2 separate regions of the Homo sapiens genome follow, and region 2 is linked to region 1. The links come from fine-mapping of genetic effects on gene expression. A gene starts in region 1. The other region holds a variant in brackets. All regions are shown on one strand. Distances are between the middles of the regions.

Region 1 (8,269 bases):
ACATAGCAGGTGTTCAAGAAATGCTCGTTCCTTTTCTTCTTTTTGCTTTCTCTTAACACCATAGATTCCTTTTTCCTTTGGAGGAGAAGAAAGTACTCAAAATAGGGGATCCATTCACTTTTTCATTCTCAACACAAATATTGATTGAGGCCGGGCATGGTGGTTCATGCCTGTAATCCCAGCGCTTTGGGAGGTTGATGCCTGAGGTCAGGAGTTCAAGACCAGCCTGGGCAACATGGCAAAACCCCAACTCTACTGAAAAAAAATACAAAAATTAGCCGGACGTGGTGGCGGGCACCTGTAATCCCAGCTACTTAAGAGGCTGAGGCAAGAGAATTGCTTGAACCTGGGAGGCAGAGGCTGCAGTGAGCCAAGTTCGCACCACTGCACTCCATCAGCCTGGGTGATAGAGTGAGACTCTGTCTCAAATATATATATAGATAGATATAGATATATAGATAGATAGATAGAGTGCTTACCACATACAAGGCATGGCATGGGGAATGCAGCAAGGAACACGATGATCCCTGCTCTTGTGTTGCAGCAAGAGGGCTTAGGCACTGGGATCAGGCAGAACTGGTTTCAAATCATGGCTCAACCACCTATCAGCTGCGGCTCCTCAGGCAAGCCATGCCACCTTTTCGAGGCTTAGTTTAGGCAATTCTAACATGGGGGCAATAAGATATCTCATAGAATGCCCAAGAGGAGCAAAGGAAAAGGCACTTGTAAAGTTGCTTAATAGCGACAGCCAGCAGCTGTGTAATCAAGAGGTTCAGAGTTGAACTGTGGGGGCCGGTGAGGATGTCTGGCCAGCAAAAGAGAATGGAGGCTGTAATCTGGGGACTTCAGGCTTCCAGGATCAGGCCACTTAGGAATGGTTGCCCTCCGGCATGCTGGTCGAGCCCTAAGCCCTAAAGTTCTGCTAGTGGAGCTTATCTGGTCATTATACAGATGAGGAAACTGAGGCCCAGAGAGTGGAAAGGCCTTGCCCAAGAGGCACAAAATCAGGATCAGGTCTCCCTTACCTTGCCCCAACTCACATATTTCTTTTTCTTTTCTTTTCTTTCTTTCTTTCTTTTTTTTTTTTGAGACAGGGACTCCCTCTGTTGCCCAGGCTGGAGTTCAGCGGTCAGATCTCGGCTCACTGCAACCTCTGCCACCTGGGTTCAAGTGATTCTCATGCCTCAGCCTCCCGAGCTGGGATTACAAGTGCATGCCACCACACCTGGCTAATTTTTGTATTTTTAGTAGAGACAAGGTTTCGCCACGTTGGCCAGGCTGGTATCGAACTCCTGACCTCAAATGATCCACCTGCCTCAGCCTCCCAAAATACTAGGATTACAGGCGTGAGCCACCACGCCTGGTCCAATTCATGTGTTTATGAAGTTCCTGTCGACAGACATTTATGTGTTGGTCTCCTTTGTTGGGTGGGCATCTCTGCTAAGTGACTGCAGTGGGCTGCTGCCACCCCTCTGCACTGGGGACACAACATGAAAGAGTGGCCATGAATTTGCCCAAGGGGGTAGGGATTAATGGGAGGGAAACTTGAGGACTCTTATGCACGCAGTGGGACAGACCCTGATTAAACAGGTGCCAACTAAAGGGGGATGTGAAGGAAGGCTCAAGTTTGGGCTCACCTGGGATGCACTGGATGCTCTACTCCTGGGCATGCTCCATTTATTCTCACACGGGCAACCCTAGAAAGCTGCACTATTTTTTGTTTTGCTTTGTTTTTTGAGACAGAGTCTTGCTCTGTTGCCCAGGCTAGAGTGCAGTGGCATGATCTTGGCTCACTGCAACCCCCGTCTCCTCGGTTGAGGCGATTCTCCTGCCTCGGCCTCCCGAGTAGCTGGGACTACAGGTGCCTGCCACCACGCCCAGCTAATTTTTATATTTTTAGTAGAGACGGGGGTTTCACCATGTGGCCAGGCTGGTCTGAAGCTCCTGACCTCAAGAGATCCGCCAGCCTTGGCCTCCCAAAGTGCTGGGATTACAGGCATGAGCCACCAGGCCCGGCCTGAAAGTTGCTCTATTTTTACTCTCATTCCATGGACTAGGAAGCTGAGGCACAGACAGATGAAGTGACCTGCCCAAGACTACACCAGCATGGTATAGCTTGAAACCTGGGCGTTCTGACTGTAGAGACCATGTTTTGAGACAGGGTCTCACTCTGTCACTCAGGCTGGAGTGCAATGGTGTGATCACGGCTCACTGCAGCCTCCTTGTCCTGAGCTCAAGTGATCCTCCCACCTCAGCCTCCCAAGTTGCTAGGACTATAGGTGTGCACCACCACAGCCTGCTAATTTTATTTATTTATTTATGTATTCATTTATTTATTTAATTTGGAGGTGGAGTCTCACTTTGTCACCCAGGCTGGAGTGCAGCAGCGCAATCTTGGCTCACTGCAACCTCTGCCTCCCAGGTTCAAGCGATTCTCCTGCCTCAGCCTCCCGAGTAGCTGGGAGTATAAGCATCTGCCATCATGCCCGGCTAATTTTTGTATTTTTAGCAGAGACGGGGTTTCATCATGTTGGCCAGGCTGGTCTTCAACTCCTGACCTCAGGTAATCCACCCTCCTGGGCCTCCCAAAGTGCTGGGATTACAGGCGTAAGCCACTGAACCCAGCTGAGGCCATGATGCTGCATCCAGGAAAAACAGAGATGAATAAAGAATGGAGAAATGAAGGGAAGAAGAAATGAAAGAATGGGAAAATGAAAGAAAAGAGAACAAACAAGTATTTTTCTTCATTTTCTTTTTAATGGAATAGTTGGCATGTAATACTTGTAGCACACGAGTTATAAAACATACTAATAGAATGAACACTTTTGAACTCACCACCAATATAAGACTATAATAGAAAGTTATCGGCCGGGTGCAGTGGCTCACTCCTGTAATCCTAGCACTTTGGGAGCCTGAGGCAGGCGCATCACGAGGTCAGGAGATCGAGACCATCCTGACCAATATGGTGAAACCCCATCTCTACTAAAATACAAAAAATTAGCTGGGCGTGGTGGCGTGCGCCTGTAGTCTCAGCTACTCGGTAGGCTGAGGCAGGGTAATCGCTTGAACCCGTAAGGCGGAGGTTGCAGTGAATCGAGATCACGCCACTGCACTCCAGCCTGGCGACAGAGCAAGACTCTGTCTCAAAAAAATAAAAAAGTTACCAATAACTTCCATCTACTTATGCCAGCAGGCCTCTGCCCAAGTTGTACATTGAACACACCTGGGGAATTTTGGAAAACACTGATACTCTCAGATGGGATTTGGGGTTTGGTTTGGGCATCTGGATTTTTTAAAGGTATCTGGATTTTTTCTTCTTTTTTTTGAGACAGTGTCTGGCTCTGTCACCCAGGCTGGAGTGCAGTGGCACAGTCATGGCTCACGGCAGCCTCGATCTCCTGGGCTCAACTGATCCTCCCGCCTCAGTCTCCCGAGTAGCTGGGACCACAAGTCCCACCATGCCCGGTTAAGTTTAAAAAATTTTTTAGAGACAGGAGTCCCTCTGTGTTGCCCAGGCTGGTATCTGGTGATTCTCACGCGCAGCCAGGTTTGAGGACCACTGACTTACATTCTCTTCCCCCTGGTTTCCACCTTCACCTTCACGTGATGGTAACCACCATCCTGAAATACGTGTAGTGCATGGACGGATTCTTTGCCTCCATGCTTCCCTATTTCAAGGAGCAGCGACGTTTGCTATTTATCTCCCGCTGGCCACGACGGGGCACCAGAGAAAAACACAGGCTCCCTACGCGCTGAAGGAGGCTTGGCCCTTGCGACGCTCCGTCGTCGGGCTCGTTGCCGGTGCAAACAGGGAGGAAACAGCCGGCGTTGCTGTAGCGCGTCTGGGAATTACACCGGGGGACTGGCCGGCCCGCTTCGTGCCTGCGGGAAGTCGGGCCGGGGGACTCTTCGGAAACTCCGAGCCTCAGAGAAATGTGAGTCGGAGGGTTGGACTAGGCCGGATCCGGCGTTAGGGCGGGGGCCCGCAGGCGGCCCGCGCGGGCGGGAACCGGGGCGGCAGTCAGCGGGCGCGAGCTCAGGGCGCCTCCGGGGTCCTCACTGCGCTCCCCACGCGCTGTGACCCCATTTGTTGCACGTGCATGTTCAGGTCGAGAGAGGGATGCGACGTGTTCGGGGAGCAGCCCACCTTGTGGGTGGCCAATCCGGGACGGGAATCTTAAACTTTTAACTCTTGGTGCAAAGACTGATCCACTGGCGGCTTTACGGGAGCGGGAAAAAAGTATGTGAAGCTTGCCACGGTCTCGAGACCGAGGTCACACGTTAGCAGCCTGCCGGCTACATTTGGACCATAGACGCAGAGTGTTTGCCCCCAAAACTGGAGGACCTCCAGAATGAGATTCTTGGCGTGCACCAGGCCTTTTCGCTCATTCAGCCGGCGTTCCTACCCAGGCACTGCATCGACCCTACACTTGAGGACAGCTTTTGGGTCAGGGGAATTGGTGCCTGGAGTGAGACTGCTCTCTGCTTTCAAGGCTCCAGCTGTATCCCTACATTGCTCAGGCAATTCCTCTCTCTAGGTCTCAGCTTCTTCATCTGCAAGATGAAAGGTCTGTCCTCCATGGTAGCCCAACATACTTCCGAGTGTTATTATCAGTCCCCTCCCCGGGGACTGCCAGAGCCAGGGCAGGTTGGTCCCAACAGGCAGCCCCTTGCAGCAGAGAGAGCCTGGGCTCTGGTCTCAGACGGACATGAATTAGGAACCCAGCTTGTTTATCTCCTTTACTTCCTGGCTCTGTGATCCTGAGCAAATCACTTTGTAATGCTTAACGTTGTTTTTACTAACCTTGTTTTTTAATGCCTTACCTTGTTTTTACTAACCTTGCTTTTAGACTCTTTTTTTCCCCTTAATCACCTAGCCTTGTTTCCACATGAATTAGCTCTCCCTTAGTTGAGAAAGCCGGATGAACTCCATCTGGTTCCCTCATTTACAAGACATCAAGGACTCCTTACCCACCCCTTTCCTCAAGGAGTTAACTTGTGTAAGCAGAATCTCAACATATCAAAGAGTCCAATTAACTGATAAGGTACTGAAACAAGCAATGTACGAAGTTCCCAGGATTTTGCTCAAAAGATAACACCATAAAACCTTGAGTTGGTGTCGGGCAGAGCACCCATATCTAACATTTTATGAAAGATTTAGAGCCCCTGCACCTGGAACTGTTGTTTCTCTGTAACCATTTGTCTTTTAATTGTTTCTCTGTGACTCTTTGTCCTTTTAATTTTTGCATGTTTTTACTTATGTAGAATTGTTGCATCTGAGCTCCCCTCCCCTTCCTAAACCAAAGTATAAAGGAAAATCAAGCCCCTTCCTCGGGCCAAGAGAATTTATTAGCCGTCTCTTGGGCACTGGCTAAATAAAGGACTCTTAATTTCGTCTCAAACTGTGGCGTTTCTCTAACTCGCTCGGGTACAACAACTTTACCTCTTCAACGTAAGTTTCCTTACCTGCCAAATAGCGAGGTGATTGTAAGAATGAAAAAAAGTCATATGTATTGAGTGCTTGGCACATACATGTGTTCCTTACATTATTGTCTCTGTTTAAGCACAGCATAAATGCCCCCGATGTGCCTAGTCTAGCAATCTTAGGACAATCCCTGTGTCTGTCTGTTGTGTTCCTGGTGATGGCTGGCCCACAGCTGGGTGCACGCAGTCCAGAATTTTTTATGTTTTTGTTTTTTTGAGACAGAGTCTCACTGTCACCCAGGCTGAGTGCAGTGGCGCTATCATGGCTCGCTACAGCCGTGACCTCCTGGGCTCAAGCAATCCTCCTGCCTCAGCCTCCTGAGTAGCTGGGACTACAGGCGCACCACCACTCCTGGCTAATTTTTGATTTTTTATAGAGATGAGTCTCATGATGTGGCTGGTCTCCAACTCCCGGCCTCAAGTGATCCTCCTGCCTCAGCCACCCAAAGTGTTGGGATTACAGGCATGAGCCACTGTGTCTGGCTAAGGTTTATTTGTTTTGTTTTGTTGTGTTTTGAGATGGAGTCTTGCACTGTCGCCTAGGCTGGAGTGCAGTGGGACAATCTTGGTTCACTGCAACCTCCACCTCCTGGGTTCAAGTGACTCTCCTGCCTCAGCCTCCCAAGGAGCTGGGATTACAGACGCCCACCAGCACGCCTGGCTAATTTTTTGTATTTTTAGTGGAGACAGGGGTTTCACTATGTTGGCGCAGCTGGTCTCGAACTCCTGACCTCGTGATCTGCCCACCTTGGCCTCCCAAAGTGCTGGGATTACAGGCGTGAGCCACGGCAAATTTAAAAGGATGATTTGCAGCACTAGTGGCAGATCATTTTAAAAAATGCTGGTGCCTGGGCCCTACTAAGTTTTTTGATTGAATTAGTTTGGAGTGGGGCTCAGACACGGTTTTGTTTGTTTGTTTGTTTTAAAGTTCCACCAGTTGATTTCACTGTGCAGCCAAGGGGTGGTGACCACTCGTTAAAGGGATGAGGCCAAGCTGGTGAGGGTTCCTGGGATTTGCAGTGGCTCACTTTCCTCCCATTCCTGTTCTCAGATGGCGCTCCCGACGCTGCCGTCCTACTGGTGCAGCCAGCAGCGCCTGAATCAGCAGCTAGCACGACAGCGAGAGCAGGAGGCCCGGCTTCGGCAGCAGTGGGAGCAGAACAGCCGTTACTTCAGGATGTCTGACATCTGCAGCTCCAAACAGGCAGAATGGAGCTCTAAAACCTCCTACCAGCGGAGGTAATTGTGCGGTAACTGCCGATTGGATGGAAGTGGGGACCACTTGCTGGTCAGGGGATGAGGCCTTAAGGATTTAGGGAGCGTAGGATTTGCCAGGCAGTATGAATTACCTGCATGGTGATGTTTTTCCAGCTGGAAATGGAAAAAAAGATCATCAGTGCAGCCATACATTGGCATTGAAAAAGATAAAATGATGCAGAAGCATATGATAGAATTTGGAAGCCTGGTTGTAACCCCATATCCCCAGAGACAGCCACAGTTAACAGTCTGGCACATATCCTTCCATGCTGTTTCCCACTGGTATTTGTGCTTAAATATACACACACAAAGCTACTTTTATAGAAATACGTGTAAAAACATGGAGGCCAAAAGCATAGGCTTTGAAGTCAGACCTAGATGGAAATCCTGACCGTGTCTCTTGCTGAATGTATGAGCTTTGGTTTCCTCATCAATCAAGTGGGGCTACAGCAGACCTATGCTGTAGGATTTATGTGATGGATAATATATACATTATTTATACATTTATACATTTTCTTTTTGCAAAAAACAAGATTTTCTCTTACACATACTATTCTGTGACCTGCTGTCTCTGCTTTGGCTGGGGACACATTCCTGTGTCGTCATGACACATCTACCTCAGCCTCTTTTACCGACACAGCAGAGCAGAGCACGTTCCCTGTGGCTGTAGCATGATTGATTCAGGCAGGCCCCCTCTCACCCAGCATGCATGCCTATCAGCGGGAGAAGATGAAGGAGGAGAAGAGGAGGAGTCTGGAGGCCCGACGGGAAAAGCTCAGGCAGCTCATGCAGGAGGAGCAGGACCTGCTGGCCAGAGAACTGGAGGAGCTGAGGCTGAGCATGAACTTGCAGGAAAGAAGAATCCGGGAGCAGCACGGGAAGCTGAAATCAGCCAAAGAAGAGCAGAGGAAACTGGTAACTCCCCAGAGGGCTTCAGGAGGCTGTGGAGCAGGAGTGTTCCCAGCCTGAGTGTGTCGCACATGTAGGGTCATTCCTGGGTGCTCAGGTCTGATGAGATGCCAGTTAACTCCAGAGCCAGCAGGAAAAGAGCTTAGGTCCTTGTGCAGGGACTGGGTTTTGGATCAGTTAGCTGTAGTCTCTTTAGCCCCTTCAATCATTACATCTGAGTGCTTTTCCTTTCTTCCAGTTCTGTGGGTCCACAGAGATCTGGGACTAGTCTGTTTTACCTTCCAAAGTAGTTATGTGAAACAGTGAGCCCTAATCTGTGCTTTTCAGCCTGCTGTATTATTTTGAGACCCCCTAGATAGGACCTCTGTGTAGCATCAGATTTTGGCCCCCTTTTGTCATCATTGCAAGAGTCACTTGGTAGTGCCATGTGGTTCTCAGAGCTGTGCATGTGAAGCATGAGGGTTTGAACAGTGGTTGCAGTGACGGTGTGAAGGGAGGCACTCATAGCCTGAGCTGACTTCCACTGTGTGTCATCCAAAATGTGAATGGATTTGAAAAATGACATCAGGCTTTCCATTTTGTGTTTTCTTGATAGATTGCTGAACAACTTTTGTACGAA
Region 2 (8,332 bases), 160 kb after region 1:
AAGAAAATGGGGGAGAGCCAGCACCCCCAAGGCAAGTTAAATCCCAATTATATTAGTTTCTGTAACAAATTACCACTAACTTAGTGGCTTTCAACAACACTAATGTATTCCTTTCCACTTTTGGGGGTTAGATTCCTAAAGTCAGTCTAACAGGGTAAAAATCAAGGGCTAAAAAGAAAAAATATAAATTAAGATCCCAGCTGGGCGCAGTGACTCACGCCTGTAATCCCAGCACTTTGGGAGGCCAAGGCAGGTGGATAACTCGAGGTCAGGAGTTTGAGACCAGCTTGCCCAACATGGCAAAACCCCGTCTTTACTAAAAATACAAAAATTAGCCAGGCACAGTGGTGGGCGCCTATAATCCCAGCTACTCGGGAGGCTGAGGTGGGAGAATCATTTGAACCCATGAGGCGGGGATTGCAGTGAGCCAAGATCACGCCATTGCAAACTCCAGCCTGAGCAACAGAGAGAGACTCGGTCTCAAAAAAAAAAAAAAAAAAAAAAAAAGAAGATCCCAGCACAAATCACTCAGGCAATCATTGTTGAAACTTTTGAGTGTCTTCTAGATATCTCTTTATGTCCACACCTAGACACACAAACAGATATACTGATGTTACAAACGTGGCCACACTACAGGCTGCAGGCTGTTTTGTAACTTGCTATTTTTACTCAATAATATGTTATTAATTCTTTCTATGACAGTAAAGATATCTGTGATAAAGATAGATCTATGATACACAATCATTTTCAGTGGCTAAAGAGTATCCTAGTGATTGAATATATGAAACTGCCCATTTTGGCAGGTCATGGTGCCTCACGCCTGTAATCCCAGCACTTTGGGAGGCCAAGGCGGGCAGATCACTTGAGGCCAGGAGTTCAAGACCAGGCTGGCCAACATGGCGGAAACCCTGTCTCTACTAAAAATGCAAAAATTATCCAGTTGTGGTGGTGCATGCTTGTAATCCCAGCTACTTGGGAGGCTGAGGCAGGAGAATCACTTGAACCTGGAAGGCGGAGGTTGCAGTGAGCCGAGATCATGCCACTGCACTGCACTTCAGCCTGGGCAACAGAGTGAGACTCTCTCTCCAAAAAAAAGAAAAGAAAGAAAGAACTGCCCATTTTGTAGGCCATAGCTATAGAATACAGGCAGTTCCATATGGCTCAAGCTAAGAGGTACATTGTGATAATTTGCCAGTCAGTCTCTGGGATAGATATTTAACTGTAACTTTTGTTCAATTTTCCCAATTATAAACAATTTTTGGTAACCCTAATATGTCCTTACCATGTGCCAACCACTCTTCTAAGTCTATTTTGCTGACATATATTAACTTTTGCAATTCTTACTCCCCCCCACCAAAAAAATGAAAACAAAAACCAACTCTATAAGGAAGGTGCTAGTATTACCTCCACCTAATAGCCGAACAAACTGTGGTATGAATGAAGCGAGAAGCTTGTCCAAGGTCACATGGTAAACAGCAGCGCCAGCTCTGAACGCAGCCATCTGGCTCCACAGCCTCAGCTCTCTTAAATGCTATGGTAAATGGAATTATTTTTCCAATTTCCTTTTCAAATGTTCCTTGCTGGTGTAAAAAAAAATGCACACACACAATTAATTTTTGTGTGTTGATCTTGTTCCTTGCGACTTTACTGAATTGGTTAATTAGCTCTATCTAATAGTTTTCTTGTGAATTCTTCGGGATTCTCCATATATGGGATTGTGCCATCTGTGATTAAAGATAGTTTTACTTCATTCTTTGCCATCTGGATGCCTTTTATTGCTTTTCTTGTCTAATTGCTCTGGCTAGAACTTCCAGTACAATGTTGAACAGCAGCGGTGAAAGCGGGCATCCTCGTCCTGTTCCTGATCTCAGGAAGAATGCACTCAGGCTATGCTCCTAACAACTGTGCTCACTGTCTGTCCACCCCACATTCATGTTGCCAGAAATCCCTGCACAAGCTTCTTCACACACCTAAGGCATTAAGTCTATACAGGACTTCTGGGTCAAAGGGTGTGCACATTTTCTATCTGAGTTTATTTTCCTAAATCATAAATGCTTGAACCATTTCATGCTTCCATCACCAAAGCAAGAGTGTGTACACTGCCTCTTAAGAGGGGCTTGACAAACAAGCGGTGTGAACTTGGTTGAGACAGTTGAGGGTCTGGTCGCCAGGCTGAGAGCACATGGCCTGTAGGATGGAGGCTGTGAGTTTGAAGAAGAGGAGAGACATAGTAGCAGTGTGCAGCCATTTGAAGAGGGACACAAGGCAAAACTAAGCAAAGGTGAAAGTTACAGGGGGAAAGATTTTGGCTCATTTTCTCAGGAAGAAAAGTGACAGGGCAGTCCCAGAGCAGAACAAGCTTTCCTTGTGGTTACTGCTGGTGATGGTGAGGAAGATGATGAAGATAATTTTCATTTACCACATCAACTTCCCTTTCTCTCCTGTCCCCTTTCCATCTGCACTTAACATCATTTCTCTACTAAAAATACAAAATTAGCCAGGCATGGTGGCACATGCCTGTATTCCCAGCTACTCAGAAAGCTGAGGCAGGAGAATAGCTTGAACCCCAGAGGCGGAGGTTGCGGTGAGCCGAGATCACCCCATTACACTCCAGCCTGTGCAACAAGAGTGAAACTCTGTCTCCAAAATACCCCCTCTTCAATCCCACATTCTCTTACCACCACTCCATGCCTCTCTTCTTCATAGCCAAGTCCCCTGAAAGAGTGAGTCATCATATCCATTTCTGCATCTCCATTCACTCCTCCGCCCACTCCAGTCTGGCTCCCACCCCCATCCCTTCTCTAAAGCCTCTCTTGCCAAGTAAACAACAACGTCATTGTCACTAAATCCAATAGACACACCACATAGCTGATCTTCCTGGAACTCTCAGCACCAGTTGACACTGTGACCATGCCCCACCTCCCTCACCTCCTTCCCTTAGCTTGCAGGAATCCACCTTTGCCTGACTTTCATTGGATCTCTGTGGCTACTCCTTCTCAGAATCCTTTGGGGACTTCAGCACTCCCACCCCTTAAAGGTTAGCCCTTCTCCGGGGTCGGTTCTAGGCCCTCTTGCTTTCTCATCTACTTCTTCTCTTGCTGGTGAATTGCAGCTTCTTCCATGGTTCTAGTTCCCATCTATATGCTGGTGATATAGAAACCTACATCTCAGGCCAGGCGCAGTGGTTCATGCCTGAAATCCCAGCACTTTGGGAGGCTGAGGTGGGCGGATCACCTGAGGCCAGGAGTTCAAGACCAGCCTGCCCAACATGGTGAAACCCAATCTCTACTAAAAATACAAAATTAGCCAGGTGTGGTGGCGGGCACCTGTAATCCCAGCTACTCAGGAGGCTGAGACAGGAGAATCACTTGAGCCCGGGAGGCGGAGGATGCAGTGAGCTAAGATCGCACAACTGCCCTCATATCCCTTAGCTCATTGCAATAGAGGAAGAGTAATTCATGCAGAGCCAGCTCTGTGGGGGAGACCAGAGACTCTGACTCAAAAAAAAAAAAAAAAAAGAAACCTACATCTCAGCTCCAGATTCATATATCCAACCACCTATTCAACATCTACATGCATATGTTCCATGAACACTTCGAACTCAATGCCTTCAGTTCTGACCTCATCTTCCACCCCAAATTGGCTCTTTCTCCTGCATTTCCTATCCCAGCAAGTTATTCCAGCACCTATCAGTTGTCCAAGCCAGAAACATGGCACACTCCTTGACTCATTCTCTCCCTCTTTCCCCCTCACCCATTCAGTTGCCAAATCCTACTGTTTTACCTTTCTAATATTGCTCGAAGTCATCTACTTCTCTCCTCTGCCTCTACTACCTCCTCAGTCCAGGTCACCATCAGCTTTCCTATCTGGACAACCCAATGGTCTCCTAAATGGTCTCCTTTCCTCCAGTCTTACCCTGTCCCCTCCACTCTCTATACTGCACACTGCATACTTTTTTTTTTTTTTTTCTTGAAACGGAGTCTTACTCTGTCACCCAGGCTGGAGTGCAGCAGCAAGATCTTGGCTCACCGCAACCTCTGCTGCCTGTGTTCAAGTGATTCTCCTGCCTCAGCCTCCTGAGTAGCTGGGATTACAGGCATCTGCCCCCACGCTCAGCTAATTTTTGTAGTTTTTAGTAGAGA[T/C]GGGGTTTCACCATCTTGGCCAGGCTGGCCTTGAACTCCTGACCTCGTGATCCACCCGCCTCAGCCTCCCAAAGTGCTGGGATTACAGGTGTGAGCCACCACTCCCAGCCTACACTGCATACTTTAATGAGAGCATGGACTATGGTGTGAGATGCTTAGGTTCAATCTCAGCTCTACCACTTACTGGCTACACGACCTTGGACAAGTGACTTAACCTTTCTGAGTCATTGTTTCTTCTGTAATAAGAGGATATTAGGGCCCAGCGTGGTGGCTCATGCCTGTAACCCCAGCACTTTGGGAGGCCGAGGTGGGTGGATCATTTGAAGTCAGGAGTTCGAGACCAGTTTGGCCAACGTGGTAAGACCCCCTCTCTACTAAAACTACAAAAATTAGCTGGGCGTGGTGGCGCACGCCTGTAATCCCAGCTACTTAGGAAGCTGAGATAGGAGAATCGTTTGAACCCAGGAAGCAGAGGTTGCAGTGAGCCAAGATCGTGCCACTCCACTCCAGCCTGAGTGATTGAGTGAGACTCCATCTCCCAAAAAAGAAGATATTAGTATTGTATTCGGCAGGGTTTCCAGTTTTAAACAACAGAATTTACTCTGCTGAATTTAAGAAGAAAGATTGTCCAGGAAAGACAAATCTATAGAGGCATAGAGTAGATTCATGGTTGCCTGGGTTGAGCAACCATGGGGAGAGAGTGGGAGTGGGGAGTGACTGTTAATGGGTATGAGGGCTCTTACTAGGCTGATGAAATGTTCTAAAACTGGATCACGGTAATGGTTGAACAACTTGGTAAATTTACTAAAAGTCATTGAAATGTGTATTTAAAATGGGTGATTTTATGATATGTAAGTTATACCTCAATAAAGTTGAGAAAAATATAGAAAAAAAGAGATTTTTTTTTTTTTTGAGACAGGGTCTCACTCTGTCGCCTAGGCTGGAGTCTAGTGGCATAAACACGACTCACTGCAGCCTCAACTTCCCAGGATCAAGCGATCCTCCCACCTCAGCCTCCCCAGTAGCTGGAACTACAGGTGTGCACCACCATGCCCAGCTAATATTTTTTTTTTTTTTTTTTTTTTTTTTTTAGAGATGGGATCTCAATTTGTTGCTCAGCTGTTCTCAACTGGTCTCAAACTCCTGGGCTCAAGCAATCCTCCCATCTCAGCCTCCCAAAGTGCTGGGATTATAGGGGTGAACCCCTGCAGCGGGCTGAATAAAGAGATTTTTTTTTTAGAGTCTCGCTTGGCTGCCCAGGCTGGAGTGCAGTGGTATGTCTCAGCTCACTGCAACCTCCGCCTCCCAGGTTCAAGTGATTCTCCTGCCTCAGGCGCCTGAGTAGCTGGGATTACATGCACCTGCCACCACGCCCAGCTAATTTTTGTATTTTTAGTAGACACAGGGTTTCACCATGTTGGCCAGGCTGGTCTTGAACTCCTGACCTCAAGTGATCCGCCCGCCTCAGCCTCCCAAAGTGCTGGGGTTACAGGCATGAGCCACCACACCCAGCCCCCCTTTTTTAATTTAATTTTTAAAATTGTCTCAATATTTTTATTTATTTTTTATTGTTTTGAGACGAAGTTTTGCTCTCATCACCCAGGGTGGGGTGCAGTGGTGCAATCTCAGCTCACTGCAACTGCTGCCTCCCGGGGTCAAGCGATTTTCCTGCCTCAGCCTCCGAGTAGCTGGGATTACAGGTGCCTACCACTACGCCTGGCTAATTTTTGTATTTTTTTTTTTTAGTAGAGATGGGGTTTCACCATGTTGGTCAGGCTGGTCTCAAACTCTGGACCTCAAGTGATCCACCTGCCTTGGCCTCCCGAAGTGCTGGGATTACAGGTATAAGCCACCACGCCTGGTGAGGGATTTTTATTTTTATTTATTTATTTATTTATTTATTTATTTATTTATTTATTGAGACCGAGTTTTGCTCTTGTTGCCCAGGCTGGAGTGCAATGGTGTGATCTCAGCTCACTGCAATGCCCGCCTCCCAGGTTCAAGCGATTCTCCAGCCTCAGGCTCCCAAGTATTAGCCAGGCATGATGACGGGTGCCTATAATTCCAGCTACTTGGGAGGCTGAGACAGGAGAATTGCCTGAACCCAGGAGGCAGAGGTTGCTGTGAGCCAAGATCACGCCACTGCAGTCCAGCCTGGGCAACATAGCAAGACTCTGTCTCAAAACAAACAAACAAACGAACAAACAAACAAACAAACCAATGAGCTTGGAAGTGACTTTTCCCCAGAGTCTCCAGACAAGAACTCAGCCCGCTGATGCCTTGATTTAGGCCTGTGGGACTGTGTTAGTTTCCACCGCTGTGTAACAAATAGAAACTCATACAGCCTCAGACAATCCTCATTCCATAGGGGAGCTAGCAGTCTGCAGAGGAACAGAGTGGGGCCCTTTAAGGCATGGGGTCCAGGGAAAGGGATCCCCTATTGTATGGGTCAAAGGGCAATACTTCCCTCTATTCCTGAATTTGAATTCTGCTCATACCCAGCATCCCATGTGATTCCTTGTATATGGAAGTGTTGCCTGGGGCATATTTTTGGAAAGCTTGGGTCTCATACTGTGTCCTAGCTGCAAGGGAACCTGGGACATTCAGTTGTGACATGTATTAGGGAGTGGAACTCATAATACAGAGAGTTCCCCAAACATGTGGCCGTTCAGGTCATGATCAACCACTCCGACAACCAATATTATAGGATTATGTAGGAGGATCAAATAGGCCAATACATGTCACATGCTAAGAATGGAACCCAGCACATGCTAAGACCTCAGCAGCACTCAGTAGCTGTTATGTTTCAAGCAAAATAATGTCTTTAAAATGAAAATAGCGTAAAACCTTTCATGTTTTCTGTATGTTTGAATATTTTCTACTAAGATGCTGGGGTTTGGGGGGACAGCTCTCCATGCTTTCTCAGTGCCCCCCAGATGCAGCTCAAGGTGCTCCACGATCTCACCCCTGCTAGCTTCCCCAGCCCCACCTTGGCCTCGCCTTCTCGGCCACTGTACACGCCAGTTGCAGGCCTGTGAAGAAGCCAGACAAATTGCTCCTTCCTCTTCTCAACACTGTGCTACCCAAGCAGGAGGGCTGAGAGGCTCCAGTGCAGGGTGGGAGGCTGGGCTGGGGCGGTATCCCCAGTGGCCTGTGGGTGCAGGAGAGAAGCCTCCATCCTTGCCCCTCAAAACAAGAAAACCAGATACCAAGGCAGCTTTTCATAAGGCTATAGCCATTCATTTGAAAAAACCATGCTTATCTTTTGAGATAATGTGCTTTCAGCTATTTGGGTGTTTTGGTGTTAGACATGAACAAAGGGATGAAGATAGATGGTAGTAGGCGGTGTTTAATTGCTTGCCTGAGATCCTTTATTTATTTATTATTATTTTTATTATATATGTATACATATATGTGTGTGTGTGTATATGTGCATATATATATATACACATTTTTTTTTTTTGAGACTGAGTCTCGCTGTATCACCCAGGCTGGAGTGCAGTGGTGCAATCTCGGCTCGCTGCAACCTCCGCCTCCTGGATTCAAGCAATTTTTGTGCCTCAGCCTCCCGAGTAGCTGGGATTACAGGCACCTGCCACCACGCCCAGCTAATTTTTGTATTTTTAGTAGAGACGGGGTTTTGCGACATTGGCCAGGCTGGTCTCGAACTCTTGACCTCAGGTGATCTGCCCGCCTTGGCCTCTCAAAGTGCGGGATTACTGGAGTGAGCCACCGTGCCCACTCCTTGATCTCTCCTCAAGTTGGTAAAAGGCATCATCAATCCCTCAGGAATCCGGAGCCATCCTTCACCTCCTAGCAAATCCATCAGTTCTGCCTCCAAAACACATCCCAGCTTTGTCCACATCTCTCTGGCTCCACCATCCCATTCCAGCCCAAGTCTCCATCCCTTGCATCTGGTGACTCCAGCAACCTTCTCACTGGTCCCTCACCGTCATTCTGGTCCCACCACACTCTATGCTCTGCACAGTGGCCCATGAGAGCTTCTAGAAACATGAGTCAGATGGTTTCACTTCTCTGCATAATACTTTTCAGTGGCTTCCCATGGCACTGAAAATCAAATTCCAACTCTTCCCCTGTCCTGCCCCCTGGTCTGGCTCTACCCTCCTCTCTTACCAGGTTCTGGAACATGCTGTCCTTGCTGTTCCTCTTTTGTGCTTCCAGATCTTTGC

Evidence for each region. PIP is the estimated chance that this variant, and not a neighbour inherited with it, causes the effect.
Region 2: its variant is fine-mapped to the expression of TCHP in left ventricle (GTEx, PIP 0.93).

What each region holds. Positions count from the first base shown.
Region 1 is chr12:109,896,492-109,904,760 of GRCh38, forward strand. TCHP (trichoplein keratin filament binding) reads left to right here and starts at 3,783. Exons shown (of 13, transcript NM_001143852.2): 1 at 3,783-3,935; 2 at 6,536-6,723; 3 at 7,446-7,656; 4 at 8,246-8,269. The coding sequence starts at 6,536. RefSeq lists enhancers at 3,506-4,346, 4,347-5,187 and a silencer at 4,004-4,113.
Region 2 is chr12:110,057,584-110,065,915 of GRCh38, forward strand. It overlaps a transcript of C12orf76 not described here. Among named protein-coding and RNA genes, the nearest start is that of C12orf76, 13 kb to the left of the region's middle. RefSeq lists an enhancer at 8,210-8,299. The variant T/C (reference allele first, on the strand shown) is at 4,143.